Linked DNA regions of Homo sapiens: region 2 is linked to region 1. A link means that fine-mapping ties the variant in region 1 to the expression of a gene that starts in the linked region. Tissue or cell type: whole blood. Region 1 holds a variant in brackets; the other region holds the start of a gene. All regions are shown on one strand. Distances are from middle to middle.

Region 1 (8,184 bases):
CAAAGCCATGGGCAGAGGAGAGTCCCTAGGGAGAAAAACAATCTCGTGGAAGGCTTACATTTAATAGTGAAGAGAGAAATGGGAACCAGGAGAGGCTGGAGTGGTCAGAGAGTTATGAAGTAACCAAGAGGTGAGGCTTTTACAGAGGAGGGGTAGTAATCAGTTCTACAAGCTTAGGAGTGAAATATAAGCAACCAAAGCTATTAAAAAAAAAAAAACAAAAACCTACATTGTCTCTCCCTGCTCTTGTCTTCTTTGTTCCCGGTTTGTTTTTCCCTGCACTTACTCTCTTGCCTTTTTGGATTCCCTTTTAAATGTCACCTTCACCAAGTTCAGCTGCTTCCACACCTCCCCCTCCCCTGACCCCCTGCACCCAGCACCATTCCTACTGTATCTAGCATAATATTTCAGAGGCTACCTAAAGGCAATAATTAGACAAACACTCAAAACTGCACATCCCAGGCTTGTTCATGAAAGTGAAAAGCTGGAAAACAAACGATATCTATCAAGAAATTAAATGGTTTATAGACAATCCTGGCTGTCCTGGTATTTTTGTAGGAAAGAAATTTCTTTAACGGTCCCCAGCAACATACCATAAGATCTTTATTCCCAATACATTTATCAAATTTAGGATACTTCTGAGCTTCCCCATTTCTCTGGCCTTGCCTCCTAAAGGTAATGTTATTTTGGTAAACATGTGACCTCTCTTTTATGAAGCCATGGATATTACACAATTCCAGACTTCCAGGTTCCTGTTGCCATAGCTTCTTTAAGAAGCTCTTCTTTCCTTATGCTCATACTTACCTATGGTAGCTTTGATGTTTCATTTTCCATAGTAAGTGAGACTCTGGGCAGAGCACCCAGCACTACTGCTAAGAGGACACAAGGGCCACTTTAGCAGAGACAGACAGCCCAACCCCTGTCCACTGTCAGCAGAAACTCGTCTGTGACAAAAAGTATAAATCAAAATCATACCAGTGATGTTTTAGTCTTCAACCTGAAGCAGTTGAAGCTTGGGTGTCGCCTTGGAGTCCTGGTGTATTTCTATTGTTGTGAAGTGCTCTCAGTGTTGAATGGGCACCCGACTGCAACCTCATGAAGCCCAGAGCTGCAGAAAGAGGGACTGTGGACATCTGGCTTCTTCATTATTGTCATGCTGCCCCTTGGGGTGGCTGCCTTTAAGGGAAGAGGGAGTTTAAAAAGAACAAAGGGAGATATGTACCAAGGGTGTTTGTCCTCATCAGTATGTGAGTTCGTGGAAGGAGTTCTTGCTGCCTGCTGAACAGTGAAAATATTCTCTTGATGGACACCTTTAGCTTGGATTGACAGGTGATAAATATATATCCCAAGATTTCTACGTTGAGCCTAATGCAAGCAGCTGGTGAAATATACCAGCACATCCTCAATCTTTCCCTGATTGTGTCTGCATAAAGTTTAGAAATAAATAATGTGTGTATTAGTTCATTCTTGCACTGATGCTATAAAGAAATACCTGAGACTGGTAACTTATAAAGAAAGGAGGTTTAATTGGCTCACGGTTCCACAGGCTGTACAGGGAGCATAGCCAGGGAGGCCTCAGGAAAGCTACAATCGTGGCGAAAGGTAAAGGGGAAGCAGGCTTGTCTTACATGGCCAGAGCAGGTGGAAGAAAGAACGAGGTGGGAGGCACTACACACTTTTAATCAACCAGATCTTGTGATAGCTCACTATCATGAGAACAACACCAAAGGGGAAATCTGCCCCTATGATCCAGTCACCTACCACCAGGCCCCACTTCCAACATTGAGGATTACAATTTAACATGATATTTGGGTGGGAACACAAATCCAAACCATATATATATATATATATATATATTTTTTTTTTTTTTTTTTTGAGATGGAGTCTAACTCTGTTGCCCAGGCGGGAGTGCAGTGGCATGATCTCAGCTCACTGCAACCTCCGTCTCCTGGGTTCAAGTGATTCTCCTGCCTCAGCCTCCCAAGTAGATGGGACTACAGGTGTGTGCCACCACGCCTGGCTAACTTTAGTATTTTTAGTAGAGATGGGGTTTCACCATGTTGGTCAGGCTGGTCTCAAACTCCTGACCTCAAATGATCCGCCCGCCTCGGCCTCCCAAAGTGCTGGGATTATAGGTGTGAGCCACCCCGCCCAGTCCCAAACCATATCAATGTGCAAATTTTAATGTAAATAGTTATGGATATTCATAATGTCTTCTGTCTGTAGCTCTGGGCTTCATGAGACTTTAATGGGCGCTGCTTTCTATTAGCACTTTCAACATTGAGAGTCCTTGACCGCAACAGAAAAACCTGAGGACTCAAGGCCAATGCCCAAGCTTCAGCGGCTTTGGTCTAAGACTACAAAAACATCACCAGCCTGGAAACTGGTAATACCTAAGTGCTAGGAGCTTCCTTGGGTTTTTGCATAGTCTCTAGCACATCCAGTGATCCATTCAGGGTTTCGTGTATATCCATAACAATGGAACTCCATGGTCATTTCACAATCTTTAGGTAGGGTCCAACGTCTGAGGGCAAATTGTCCTGCATGACTCCCTCTCACATTTCCCCTCAAGCTCACAAATGAGTAAAATCTGGATAAATTACACATGAAGGGGGTTATGGTTAACGAGACTGAGAGGCAGTCATACTGGGAAGAGCAGCCAGGAGAAAAGAATGTTCTAGATGGGAAGAATGAACTAAACCCTGGGCCTATTACTCATCATGGTAGAAAAACTTCCTTTACACAGAATGGAACATGAAGTTCTAAGCCTCCTGGTGTTCCAATGAGCTTGGGTTGTCAAGAGCACTCATTTAACAAACGTCCTTAGACTCTTACTGTCACACTTAATCTGATCCAGCTTCCTATCTTGAAGAGATTATTTTTGCTGATTTTGACTTCCATCAAAATCTTTGTTTCTTGATGCTCTCTTGAATGTCCACCTTGGCTTCTATAATTCTTTTGTTTTTAAGATCAGCAAGTTTCTCAAAGCCACATTTGAAAAGCATACAATTACCTTTGAGAGGATTCCAATGCAAGGATAATTTTCTTATTGGTTCATATAATGAAGTGATTTGTTTGCTCTGGTCCATTTTAGCCATTGAGCATATAACAGATGGGTCAGAGGCCTAGATGCTAGTCCTGCAGGTCACTAAACTGGTTGAGTGATCTTGGGTGATGTTGGGTATATCACTTAATCTCTCTGGTCTGCAGTTTCCTCAGCTGCGAAATGAAAGGATTGGGCCAGATGATGTGTAATAATAACTCCTCTAGCTTCTCTAGCCTGTAATAATGTCCACAGAGTACAGGCTCTATCTAGCCTCTAAGTCTATGATTAAAATATGATTACATGCTTTTTAGATGAAATTAGAAGGAAAATCTCACAGGCCTTTTAACTTACCTACCATAAAGAATCATTCATTACCATTTTGCTTTACTTCTTCTCACTTCCCTCTTCCTAAACTACTCTACAAATAAAGACTAAAATCCAGGAACTTGATATAGGAGAATGATGGATGTGACTATTTCACATCCTTTTCTTTAATATGTTTTTAATTACTTGCAAGTAAATAATTTATTTGCCTATATATCTTTCTGAACTCTGTGTGGGGACTGTTGGTCTCTGGTACAGTCCAAGCCCTCCAGCCTAGTGCTTGAAACAAAATGGGTCTTGTTTGCCAGCAGCTCATGGAATGTGATGCCCTTATTTTCCCACAGTCTGTTACTATAGGAAGGCACATTGTATATTCTCCATGTTTTTTTTTTTTTTTTTTTTTTTTTTGAGATGGAGTCTCATTCTATTGCCAGGCTGGAGTGCAGTGGCGCAGTCTCAGCTCACTGCAACCTCCGCCTCCTGGGTTCAAGCGATTCTCCTGCCTCAACCTCCTGAGTAGCTGGGACTGCAGGTGCGTGCCACCACGCCCAGCTAATTTTTGTATTTTTAGTAGAGAGGGGGTTTCACCATGTTGGCCAGGATGGTCTCGATCTCTTGACCTTGTGATCCACCTGCCTTGGACTCCAAAGGTGCTGGGATTACAGGCGTGAGCCAGTGTGCCTGGCCTCCATGATGTTTTTTATTGTAGGGTCTATATGTCTAAAACTTTTTTAAAAAATAGACTTTATTTTGTTAGAGCAGTTTTGAGTTCACAGAAAAACTGATAGGCAGATACTAGATTTTTTCCATAACGCATTCCCATGTACGCATTATCCCCCCACTGGCAACATCCCTCATCGGACCGATGCATTTGTTATAACTGATGAACCTATATTGACACATCGTTATCACTCTGAGTCCATGGTTTCCATTAGGGTTCATTCTTGGTGGTGTACATTTTATGTATTTGGACAAATATATAATGGCTTGTATCCATCACTGTACTATCATTCAGAATAGTTTCACTGTACTAAAAATCCTCTGCAGTCTGTTTATTCTTTCCTCCTTCCCGGTAGCCCTTGGCAACTGCTGATCATTTTATTGTTTCTATTGTTTGGCCTTTTCCAGACTGTCAGGTAGTTGGAAACATACAAAGTATGTAGTCTTTTCAGATTAGCTTCTTTAACTTAGTAACATGCATTTAAAATTCTTCCATGTCCTTTCATGTCTTGATAGCTTATTTCTTTTTGTTGTTGAATAATGTTCCCTGGTCTGGATGTACTCCATGTATTCATTCACCTACTGAAGGACATCTTGGTTGCTTTCAAGTTTTGGCAATT[AC/A]AAATGAAGCTGCTATAAACATCCATGTGTAGCTCCTGTGTGAGCATAGATTTTCAACTCCTTTGGGAAATGCTAAGGAGGGCAATTGCTGGATCTTAGGTAACAGTCTGCTTAGCTTTGTAAGAAACTGCCGGGCTGGGTGCGGTGGTTCACGCCTGTAATCCTAGCACTTTGGGAGGCCAAGGCAGGCAAATTGCCTGAGCCGATGAGTTTGAGACCAGCCTAGGCAACATGGCCAAACCCCGTCTCTATTAAAAATATAAAAAATTATCTGGGTGTGGTGGTGCACGCCTGTAATCTCGGCTACTTGGGAGGCTGAGGCATGAGAATCACTTGAACCCGGGAGGCAGAGGTTGCAGTGAGCCAAGATCATGCCACTGCACTCCAGCCTGGGTAACAGAGCGAGACTTTGTCTCAAAAAAAAAATAAAAAAATAAAAAACCTGCCAAAACTGTCTTTCAAAATGACTGTGTCATTTTGTTTTCCCATCAACAGCAAATGGGAGTTCCTGTTGTTCCACATCCTCATCAGCACTGGGTGTCATCAGTGTTCTGGATTGTGGCCATCTAATAGGTTTTTACTGGGATCTCATTCTATTTGTATTTCCCTGAGGACATATGATGTGCAGCGTCTGTTCATATGTGTATTTGCCACATGTACATCTTCATGGTGAGGTGTCTGCTAAGGTCTTCGGCCCATTTTTTAATTAGGTTGTTTGTTTTCTTATTGTTGAGTTTTAAAGATTCTTTGTATATTTTGGATAGTAGTCCTTTATCAAATATGTTTTTGCAAATATTTTCTCCCAGTCTATGGCTTGGGTTTTCATTCTCTTAACAGTGTCTTTTGCAGAACAGAAATTTTTATTTTAATAAAGTCCATCTTATCATTTCTTTCTTGGATCCTGCCTTTGGTTTTTATCTAAAAAGGCATTGCCAACCCCAAGGTCGTCTACATTTTCTTCTATGTCATCTTCTAGGAATGTTGTAGTTTCTCATATTACATTTAGGACTGCAATCCATTTTGAGTTAATTTTTGTAAAGGGCATAAGGTCTGTGACTAGATTCATTTTTTTTTTTTTTTTGCTTGTGGATGTCCAGTTGTTCCAGCACCACTTGTTGAAAGCACTACTTGTTTCTATTGTATTGCCTTTGCTCCTTTGTCTGAGATCAGTTGGCTATAGAGTCATACCTCAAAGATATGGCAGATTTGATTCCAGGCCACCATAATAAAGCAAATATTGCAATAAAGTGAGTCAAACAATTTTTTGCTTTCCCAGTACATATAAAAGTTATATTTATACTATACTGCAGTCTATTAAGTGTACAATAGCCTTACGTCTAAAAAACAATGTACACCCCTTAATTTAAAATATTTTATTGCTAAAAGTGTTAGTGATCATCTGAGTCTTCAGGGAGTCACAATATTTTTGGAGGTGGAAAGTCTTGCTTTCATACCGACGGCTGCTGACTAATCAGGGTGGCGGTTGCTGAAGACTGGGACTGTCGTGTCAATTTCTAAAAAAAAAATAAAAAAAGACAACAATAGAGTTTGCTGCATCAATTGACTCTTCCTTTCATGAAAGATTTCTCTGTAGTAGGCAATGCTGTTTGATAGCGTTTACCCACAAGTAGAACTTCTTTCACAATTGGGGCCAGTTCTCTCAAATCCTGCTGCTGCCTTATCAACTAAGTTTGTGTAAGATATCTAAATTCTTTGTTTTTATTTCAACAATGTTCATAGCATCTTTAACAGGAGTAGATTATTCCATCTCAAGAAACCACTTCCTTTGCTCATCCATAAGAAGCAACTTCTTGGTCGGGCATGGTGGCTCACGCCTGTAATCCCAGCACTTTGGGAGGCTGAGGTGGGTGGATCACGAGGTCAGGAGATGGAGACCCGTCCTGGCTAACATGGTGAAACCCCTTCTCTACTAAAAATACAAAAAATTAGCCGGGTGTGATGGCACGTGCCTGTAGTCCCAGCTACTCAGGAGGCTGAGGCAGGAGAATCGCTTGAACCTGTGAAGTGGAGGTTGCAGTGAGCCAAGATCACACCATTGCACTCCAGCCTGGGTGACAGAGCGAGACTCCGTCTGAAAAACAAAAACAACAACAAAAAAAACTAGAAGCAACTTCTCATCCAGTAAAGTTTTATCATGAAGTTGCAGCAATTCAGTTACATCTTTAGGCTTCACTTCTAATTCTAGTTCTCTTGCTGTTTCCACTATATCTTCAGTGATTTCCTCCACTGAAATCTTGAACCCCTGAAGGTCATCCCTGAGAATGGAATCAACTTCTTCCAAACTCTTGTTCATATTGACACTTCAAAATCTTTTCATGAATCCTAAATGTTCTCAGTGGTATCTAGAATGGCGAATCCTTTCCAGAAGGCTTTCAATTTACTTTGCCCAGATCCATCAGAGGAATTACTATCTATAGCAGTTATAGCCTTATGAAATGTATTTCTTAAATAATAAGACTTGAAAATTGAAATTACTCCTTAACCCATGGGCTGCAGAATGGATGTTGTATTAGCAGGCGTAAAATATTAATATCCTTGTACACCTCCATCAGAGCTTTTGGGTGACTAGGCGCATTGTCAATGAGTAGTAATAGTTTGAAATAAATCTTTTTTTCCTGAGCAGTAGATCTCAACAGTGGGCTTAATACCTTCAGTAAACCATGCTATAAACAGATGTGCTATCATCCAGGCTTTGTTGTCCCATTTATAGAGCACAGGCAGAGTAGATTTAGCATAATTCTTACGGACCCTAGAATTTTTGAAATCATAAATGAGCATTGACTTCAACTTAAAGACACCAGCTGCGTTAGCTCCTAACAAGAAAGTCAGGCTGTCTTTTGAAGGCTTTGAAGGCAGGCATTGACTCTCCTCTATAGCTTTAAAAGTCCTAGATGGCATCTTCCAAAAGAAGGCTGTTTCATCTACATTGAAAATCTGCTGTTTAGTGTAGCAACCTTCATCAATTATCTTAGCTAGATCTTCTGGATAGCTTGCTGCAGCTTCTACAACAGCACTGGTTGCTTTATCTTGCCCTTTTATGTTATGAAGATGGCTTCTTCTCTAAACCCAGGAACCAACGTCTGCTAGCTTTAAGCTTTTCTTCTGCAGCTTCCTCACAATTTTAAGACTTCATAGAGTGGAAGATACTTACAGCCTTGCTCTGAATTAAGCTTTGATTTATGGGAATGGTGTTGCTGGTTTGATCTATCCAGACCACTAAAACTTTCTTCATATCAGCAATAAGGCTGTTTGCTTTCTTATCATTTGTGTGTTCACTTGAACAGCACTTTAAATTTCCTTCAAGAACTTTTCCTTTGCATTCACATCTTGGCTAACTGTTGGACACAAGAGGCATATATTTGGGCTTACCTTGGCGTTTGACGTTCCTTTCTCACTAAGCTTAATCATTTCTATGTTTTGACTTCAAGTGGGAGATGCGCAACTCTTCTTTT
Region 2 (8,184 bases), 54 kb before region 1:
GAAGCAACAAGTCATTCTGAGCTTCCTGGCCTGCCCCATGGGAGAGGACCAAATGAGCTGCCACTCCTCTGCTCCTGGTTGCCATGTTCTTGCCTTTCAAAGAGAGAGCTGCTCCCTTCCTGATGGCAGTGTGGCCCAAGCACTGGGTTATGCTGTCTGGGATGCCACCCTCTCGCAGCATGCCTTCCCTAGAGGTCTGGGAGCTGGACCGGCTGCTGCCTTGTGACATCCGGGATGGCGCCTTCATTACTATGCCCTTTCACTGCTATGCACAAAACCGTGGGGAGGGGTTTAGGCACAGATCCACACTGCCAAACTGGCTTCCCAAGGGACTGGCTACCTCTGCCATGGCCTCAAAGGCAAGGAATCAGAAGGCCACCTACAAAGTCACGGTGCGGGGATCGGGAGGCTGCCACTTATCACTGCTGCACCCCCTCATTCCATAAATACCTCTCAGCATCCATGAATCTGGTGACCAAACACTGCCATGCTGTTGCAGTGGGGAACCCACTGCCCGCCCCAACTGTTCCTGCCTCAAGTGTCTGTGACCTTGCTAGGCAGCAGAAAACACCAAAGAACAGGAAGGGAGCTTCAGCTCATGTTCACTTTCCAGATCTTTCCAATTCATCTATTGCCAGAATATAATTCATGGCTAGACCCTTGGCTGCAAGAAAGTCTGAGAAATGTGGCTTTACATGTTCTGGCCACTGCAGTCCAAGGAGGAGTGCAAGATGCTAAGTGCCAAACCACCATATCTACCATAGGTGGGGAGAAAAAAATATTGAATTCTGTTAAATAATCAATATTCCAAAGATTTTCAACTGTTTCTAACATTTATTTAATGAAATTAAACAAAAATCACGTCTGTGAAGATTATGGGCATATTCACATTTGCTAAGAATTCTCTTAACCATCAAAAGGCAACTTCTTTCCACTGGTATCACCATTGCAAAGTTCAGGGGGTTTCTCATCCATTAGGAGGTGTGTGTGTGTGTGTGTGTGTATATATATATAAAATATATCTTATACATATGTATTATATATAATATAGGTATACATATAATATACATACATATATAACAGGTGTATATATGTACATAGATGTATATATGTATACATAGGTGTATATATCATATATACATAGGTATATATTAAATATGTGTAAAATATATAGACGTGTATATATCTTATATATAAAATATAAAATTTATATAAATTATAAAATATATATAAAATAAAATTTATATAAATTATAAAATATATATAAAATATAAAATATATATAAATATATATAAATATAAAAAATATATAAATATATATAAATATAAAATCTATATAAAATATATAATATAAAATTTATATAAAATATATATAACATAAAATTTATATAAAACATACATAAAATATAAAATTTATATATATAAAATGTACATATTTATACATAAAATGTATATATATTTTATATATACACATGGATATGAATGCTGAGAGGCTAAGTAAAAAAATACATTTATATATACACATATATCTATATATATTTATATACACAAATCAACATATTTTATATATGTACATATGTGTATATTCTATATCCTATCTATATATCTTATACATATGCACATATCTATATTCTATACATATATACTTCTATATATAGATGTGTGTATGTATGTGTAAATATGGTATATATTTCCTAAAAAGAATGGTTTTTTATTTTTAAATTACAGAAATAATAAAAGTATTATTTAAAGTCTGAAAAATAAAGTCAAAGCAGTTGCCTATAAGCCTCCATCACTAGCACAGTAACCATGCGATTCTTTTCCTGAGCACATTTACATCTTTGTGAATGCAATGGTTATAGAATTTCGTTTTGTTTTTTTCACCTAACATTACATTATAATCATCGTCCATGTCGTGTAATGTAAATTCCACTTGTAAAGGCTGCATAATATTTCACTAATATTATGCACACATCATAATTTCCTTAGCCATTCCCTTCTGGTTGACCATTTAGGTTGTTTCCAATGATTTACTGCTCTAAGGAATGCTTTGAAGAAGAGCTTCCTGTGTATTTGGGTTTTTGTTACATTCCCAGAAGTGGGGCAGTGGGTTCTTACAGACTTAATGCTTAAAGGGCATCCACTTAAAAATAAGGATCAACAGCTTCTGATCAGTATTTCTTAAAAACGACCTTTGACAAAAGTAGAGTTTTCTCTAGCCATTACAGAGATGGCTAAGTAAAAACACAGAGCCTGTTTTTACTTATCACATCCTTAGCACTCAGCTTGCCAGCTACTATCTGCAGCTACCAAAACTAGGCAAACAGTGCTCTTGGTCCTGACGCCTCTATTGACCTCTACCCATGCTCACATTACTGTATCTCAAATCCCTAAGAGCTGCTTGGGATGCTGATCACGGTGAGGGCAGAGAGTAGGCTCAGCCTCTTCAGGGTCTTCCCCACCCTTTCATATCTCAGGATCCAGCTTTCCTGACGAGAAGCCTTGTCTAGATAAGGCAGGGAGGCCCTGGTGCCTACAAGTTGATCAGCCCAAGTCATCTTAAGCCCTGGAACACGCAATTTAGACGGACACTTCCAGAGGCAGACAGGTCCCTCCCCTACTTTCTGATTTCTCCCTTTTTCCCCAGACTGGAGCAAAACAATATTAAAACAGCCTGGGTTACACTTTATTGAAGAGGCCAGCTTAGGACGACTTTAAGAACTAGGTGACCACAGTCTTAAGACAGGCAGGGGCAAGGCTGTAAGATTTTACTCTCAGCCAGTTCACACTCCTAACTGTGAGATCAGGCCTCTACAGACCTTATGGGCCTATCAAACCCAAAGAAAATTTCCTGGAGGTGCCTACTCAGAGGGGCTCCCTCCTGGTCACTCCTTATAGCCTTGCTCGGTCCAGGGCAGGGTGGGTTCGGTCTCTCGGTGAGAACAAGAGGAACACATTTAGCTCTGCATTATGTATTTAGGTTGAGAGAAACAATTTCGAATGAATGGGGGTCTCTCCAACAAAGCAGTCTAGAACGGGCCCCTGAGGTTTGAATTCAGGCCTTAGGAATGCCAAAGCTCACTGAGCGATTCTGTTTGCAAACCCACCCGCCACGGGGACGGATTTTCCCCGAGACACTGTCACCCATGCCTCCAGCTCTGGGCATACCCCACTGCGGCCCCTCCCCAATGACCTCCCCTGCCCCTCGCGGACCAGCCCATCCTCAAGATAGTACAACTTTCCGGGCCACCCCACGTCTCCTCTCGCCCCCGTCCGGTTGCTTGGAAATGTGCACGGGACGGTGACGTCACACAGGGAGGCGGGTCCCCACTGTCCCGCACACCAATGGCGCGGCGGCCGCCGGCCTCTTGGTTCCCGGCGATTGGTGTCTCTGGCCGCTGCGCTCCACCCCAGCCCGCCATGGCGTCAGGCGCCGCGGCCCCGGGGAGGTGGCTCCCACTTTAAGAAGTGAAGTTTTGCGCCCCTCCCCCTCCCTGCCCACCTCCTGCAGCCTCCTGCGCCCCGCCGAGCTGGCGGATGGAGCTGCGCAGCGGGAGCGTGGGCAGCCAGGCGGTGGCGCGGAGGATGGATGGGGACAGCCGAGATGGCGGCGGCGGCAAGGACGCCACCGGGTCGGAGGACTACGAGAACCTGCCGACTAGCGCCTCCGTGTCCACCCACATGACAGCAGGAGCGATGGCCGGGATCCTGGAGCACTCGGTCATGTACCCGGTGGACTCGGTGAAGGTGAGGCGCGGGGAGACTTCGGGGACGCAACGAGCGGAGAAGGAGCGCGCGCGCGCATTTGCATCCCGCGCGCCGGCAGCCTCGGGGCAGCGTCCCGAAACCGAGCTCTCCCCAGGACCGCGGCTGGCCGGGGTCGCCCCAGGAGCAGCTGCGCGCAGCCTGGGCGCCGCGCCTTCCGCCGACCCCGCGAGGGTGCCCGGTCCTCGCCCCGCACCGCCCGCTGCTCCAGCCGCGTGCCCGGCCCCGGCTGCTGGCGGCGCTGAGGCGGGGGAGGCGGAGTGGCGAGCACCGCTGGCTTCGGCGGCGACTGGGCTCCCGGGGGACGCGATCGCTGAAGCTCTGCACAGTCTTACCACGCTGGCCGTTCGGGCTGGCTGGGGCCGCCCACACGTGCGCGGTTTCCGAGGGAGCTCCCCGCAGGGGAAGCCCTCACCACGCTGGAGCTGAGAAACGTGTGGCCCTGGCCCGGCCGCGCGCCCTCGGGACTTGGTGTGTGGCTGCTGCTCCCCGGGTTATTTCGGGAACTTGGGGCCGGCAAGTCTTCTCTCGACTAGTGGCAGCTCTTTACCGGTTCGACAGCGGCCCGTGGGATCCCCTTTCTGAGGGTTCCTGCACTTCTTCCCCCGACTTTGGGTCGCCGAGCCGCCGGGAGGCAATGACGTTTGCCTTCTCCTTTTGCTTGCGGGGAGGTGGGTGGGCTTGTGCCTTACAGCCCTTGCTGTGGATTGTGTGAGAGGCACTCAGTTTCCTTTAAACCCTGTCTGTCACTTGCCCCGGTAGTTTTAACTGCATTTCTGTAAAGAGGCAGCGTTACTAGGTGCGTTTTGCCTGGTAGACTGAGACCTGCCCTCTGTCAGCCTGCCCAGAACACCCCAGGGCCAGGATAGAGTAGTGCAGGAAGTAATGCCAGTATTGACTGTTACACGTTGCACTTTTATAGGCATAACTCGCCTAATTCATGCAACAGCCCTGGGGGTTAACAGATGAAGAAACTGAGGCGCAGAGAGGCGAACCGATTACCTTGCCCAGGCTCCTACACCACCTCCTATCCTCTGGCTGCAGCTGCAGTGTGCTTTGGAGGATTCGGAGGCCTCTCTAGGTGGCAATTATTTTGCAAGGCAGGTCCCACAGAGGCACCCCCAGCAGCTTTATCTTGTTGCTGATGCTGGTCCTGCATGAGCAGGTATGAAGGCCAGAAAGTATAACTCAGAGGGTTTTCCCGGCTCCGGGGAGCTCGCTTGGAGCCAGCAGTCAGTGTCTGGACAGGCAGAAGTCCAGTGAGGAAAGACATGGGCTTCCAAGGTGCTGCTGGACCTAAGCCTGAGCCATCACCCATATGTCCCTCCAGTGTCCCAGTGGGGAGTTAGAGGAATGGTTCTCATCTCCAGGAAAGACACTGGACTGATACCAGGTGGCATTTGTATGGGAAAGAATCCCTCAAATGTAATAAAATTCTCCATGATTGAAGCTGTTGTCTCAACTGCCCTGGGCAGAGTCTGGGGAAAGTTAGGAGCAGGGAGGTGTTATCTGAGCAGGCCCTAGTCCTACTGGTGTCTTGAGATGAATGTTCTATTCGGGAACCCCACAGTGAGTTCACTTTAGAGCATCATTTTAGCTTATTTTTAGGATTAGAAATAATTAGTTGTGCCTTCTGAGCACCCTTTGACACTCTCAAGAGGCGTTTCTCACACGTTTAAATTGTGTGATCTGTGTTTAGTTTCTCCCTGCCCCATACATGTTGATATGTTTTGGTTCAGATGTCACCTGTATACTTAGTATTACTTTCCATAGCAGTTTTCACCTGTGGACAGGTTAACATGGTGTGAATGGTAGAAGGAGCCGGTCTGGTTTTCCTAGACAAGTCTGTAAAACAAGGCGTGGGTTAGCTAATCAGTGAAGTCTTCTAGGTTCTGGGATTATAACTGACCCTTAGGGGCCCTTCCATGCTGAAGTGTGCAGGGTTGGTTTTGAGGCTGCCACTGAGTGCCAAGGTCTGCCAACATCAGCACAGTTGTCTGCCAAGCATGAGGAGTCAGGGGTGCATCCTCCATCATGGAAAGGCTTGGGGGAGACCACACCTGTGTTCCTCTTAAGTATTTTGGATGATGGCGAAGACCGGGAGTAACTGAGTCAAGAAACCCGGGTTGGGCTTCAAGCCCTGCTCTCACTTGCTTCATGCCTCGGGCACTGTTCTGTGCCTTAGTTTTGTCACTATAAAGTGGGGACAGTGGACCTGCTCAGTCCCTCTCCACATTTTTAACCCATGCCTCGTTTCTCTGAACACACAACACCCATCGTCCTCTTTTATGTTACTTGAAATATCAAAAGAATTATTACAGCTGAAAACAAATCTATGTAAATCGGATCTTGAAAGAGAGAAAGCTTTCTCCAGTTTTGAAAGGCGCCATTTTTAACTTTGATCTTGTAATGACAAATAAGAATGTTGAATCGGCTGGCTTTTTTCTATCCTAGGTAATGTGGACTGTGGAGCTCTGTGCTGGTCACTTTCAACCCTGAACCTGATGCTACTTATTTTGCAGTTCTAAGTGCAAAGTCGGCCTGGTGGATGCTTCCCATTATAATATTAAATTTGCTTCTTCGTGAGGTCACACCTCACATCCCCAGTGTCACTTTAATAACTAGTGTTTTTTACATGGTGGGCCATGACCCATTAGTGGACTCTGCATTTAAAAATAAATAAATAAATAAAAGAAGTTATTAGTGAGAGTGTAAAAATACGGGTGTGCCTGGCATGCAGTGGGAGAAATGTTGAAATTCTGTTTGGGTTGTGTGTGTGTCTCTGAGTGCATTTTACAGACGTGTACAATGTACTTCTGGCTGGGAGTTGTGGTCAAACAAATATGAAAACCACTGAACCTGAGAAAATATCTCTGGAGCCCCAGCAGGCAACACTGAGATTATGAAATGGGTATTTGGAAGACCTTTGGCAACTTTCCTGCTGCTTCCTGTGTCTTCTTCTTTCCCTTGGTCCTCCCATGGTGGGATGTGAGCACTCATTCATCCATAAAGGGCCAGTCTACTGGGACCTTTGGCTGCCCCTGCGATGACAGTGAGCAGCAAAGTGATACCCAGGGAGGGAGTATAGGGTCTCTGCAGGGCTCTCACCAAATGGTGGCAATGACTTACTCCTGTCTAGGCGGGGTCTGGTGGCAGGTTTTCCATGAGCCTCTTTCTGGTGTTCCAGAGTGGCAAGGGGCACTTGGGGTGGATACAAGAACCCCTGGTCTGATCAGGAGAGCTCAAGACTTGAGGAGCATGCCAGGTGGGTGGAGGAGGAAATTCCAACCAGATTAGGCACACCACTCGGAGACCATGCCGAGTCCCGCCTGGGGAAAGCAGGGGCAGAAGGAAACAGGAAAGATTTGAAGCCGGGGGACTTCCGCTGACCCTTTCACAACCCTTCTTTTGCTTTGCTGTTGGGGGAAACCCTGCCTGTGACTCTCCTAGGATGAGCCCTCCTTCCCAGGTTGGTGCACCACGGAGCGTTCCCTCTAGGAGCCTCCTGGCTGACCTTATGGTGTGCACAGCCAGCCTGCCCAGCTCAGCAGAGCATTACCTCAACTTCTGACTTCTCCTCTTCTGAGTTTTCTCCTGGCTGCAGGCAGACTGGTAGGAAGGGTGCTGGGGGGCAGTGCAGGCAGCTGCCAGAGTCCCCTCCCACCCACTTCATTGCTTTCCAAACAAAGTGCAGTTCGGTCCATGCCATTCAGCTTCAGAAGGGCGTGAAATCCCAAATTGCTCTAGTTCCTGGGACAAAACTATAATGATTTTTCTCTCTCCCTTCTTGTCTCCTCTCCCTCACATCCCCCTGCTCCCTTCTTTTCTCTCCTTTGATGAGAGGTGATTTTCTTAAAAGGCGAATTTGGAACGAGGAATCAAAAAAGGGGTATTTGTGAGCTGCAGTCCTGTTCCTTGTTTCATGAACCCCCAGGCAGCCATGGCCTGTACCCCTCAGGCCTACCCTGAGGAGTGTGAGAACCTCATCCACTTTTCTCTGCCCTAAATTGGGGAGGGGCAGGCTGGAGCGTGGTTTGGAGGCGCGTGCCCAAGAGTACTGTGAACAGCAAAGGGGGCCTCAGCTTTTTAGTAGGGAGAGGTATTTGGGGTTGAATGGGAGGATTTAATCAGCTGCTTTGCTTAAACTATACAGGGGTGTGCACCTGGGGTGGGGGATGTGCGTGTCACCTGGAAGGGAGGAATGTGCTTCCCAAACCTTTTCCTGGCTTCCACTTGGGCACGTTTCAGCTGCATGTGGCCATCTCATTAGAGATGAGTTTTGTCCTGTCTTGCAGCAGTGACCAGTCTTGGGGAATCAGTTCCACTTTCTCTGTTTTTTAGTCTTGGGCTTCTGACTCTCTCTGACTTCAGGGGTTTCCTTCTTCTGACTCATCGGATGAACTCACCTGCTGGTGTGGAA

What was found. PIP is the estimated chance that this variant, and not a neighbour inherited with it, causes the effect.
Region 2: SLC25A37 starts here. The variant in region 1 is fine-mapped to the expression of SLC25A37 in whole blood (INTERVAL, PIP above 0.99).

The regions. Positions count from the first base shown.
Region 1 is chr8:23,578,996-23,587,179 of GRCh38, forward strand. No RefSeq gene overlaps it. Among named protein-coding and RNA genes, the nearest start is that of SLC25A37, 54 kb to the left of the region's middle. The variant AC/A (reference allele first, on the strand shown) is at 4,711.
Region 2 is chr8:23,525,467-23,533,650 of GRCh38, forward strand. SLC25A37 (solute carrier family 25 member 37) reads left to right here and starts at 3,490. Exons shown (of 4, transcript NM_016612.4): 1 at 3,490-3,746. The coding sequence starts at 3,537. RefSeq lists enhancers at 3,184-3,233, 4,524-4,593 and silencers at 3,364-3,723, 3,774-4,023.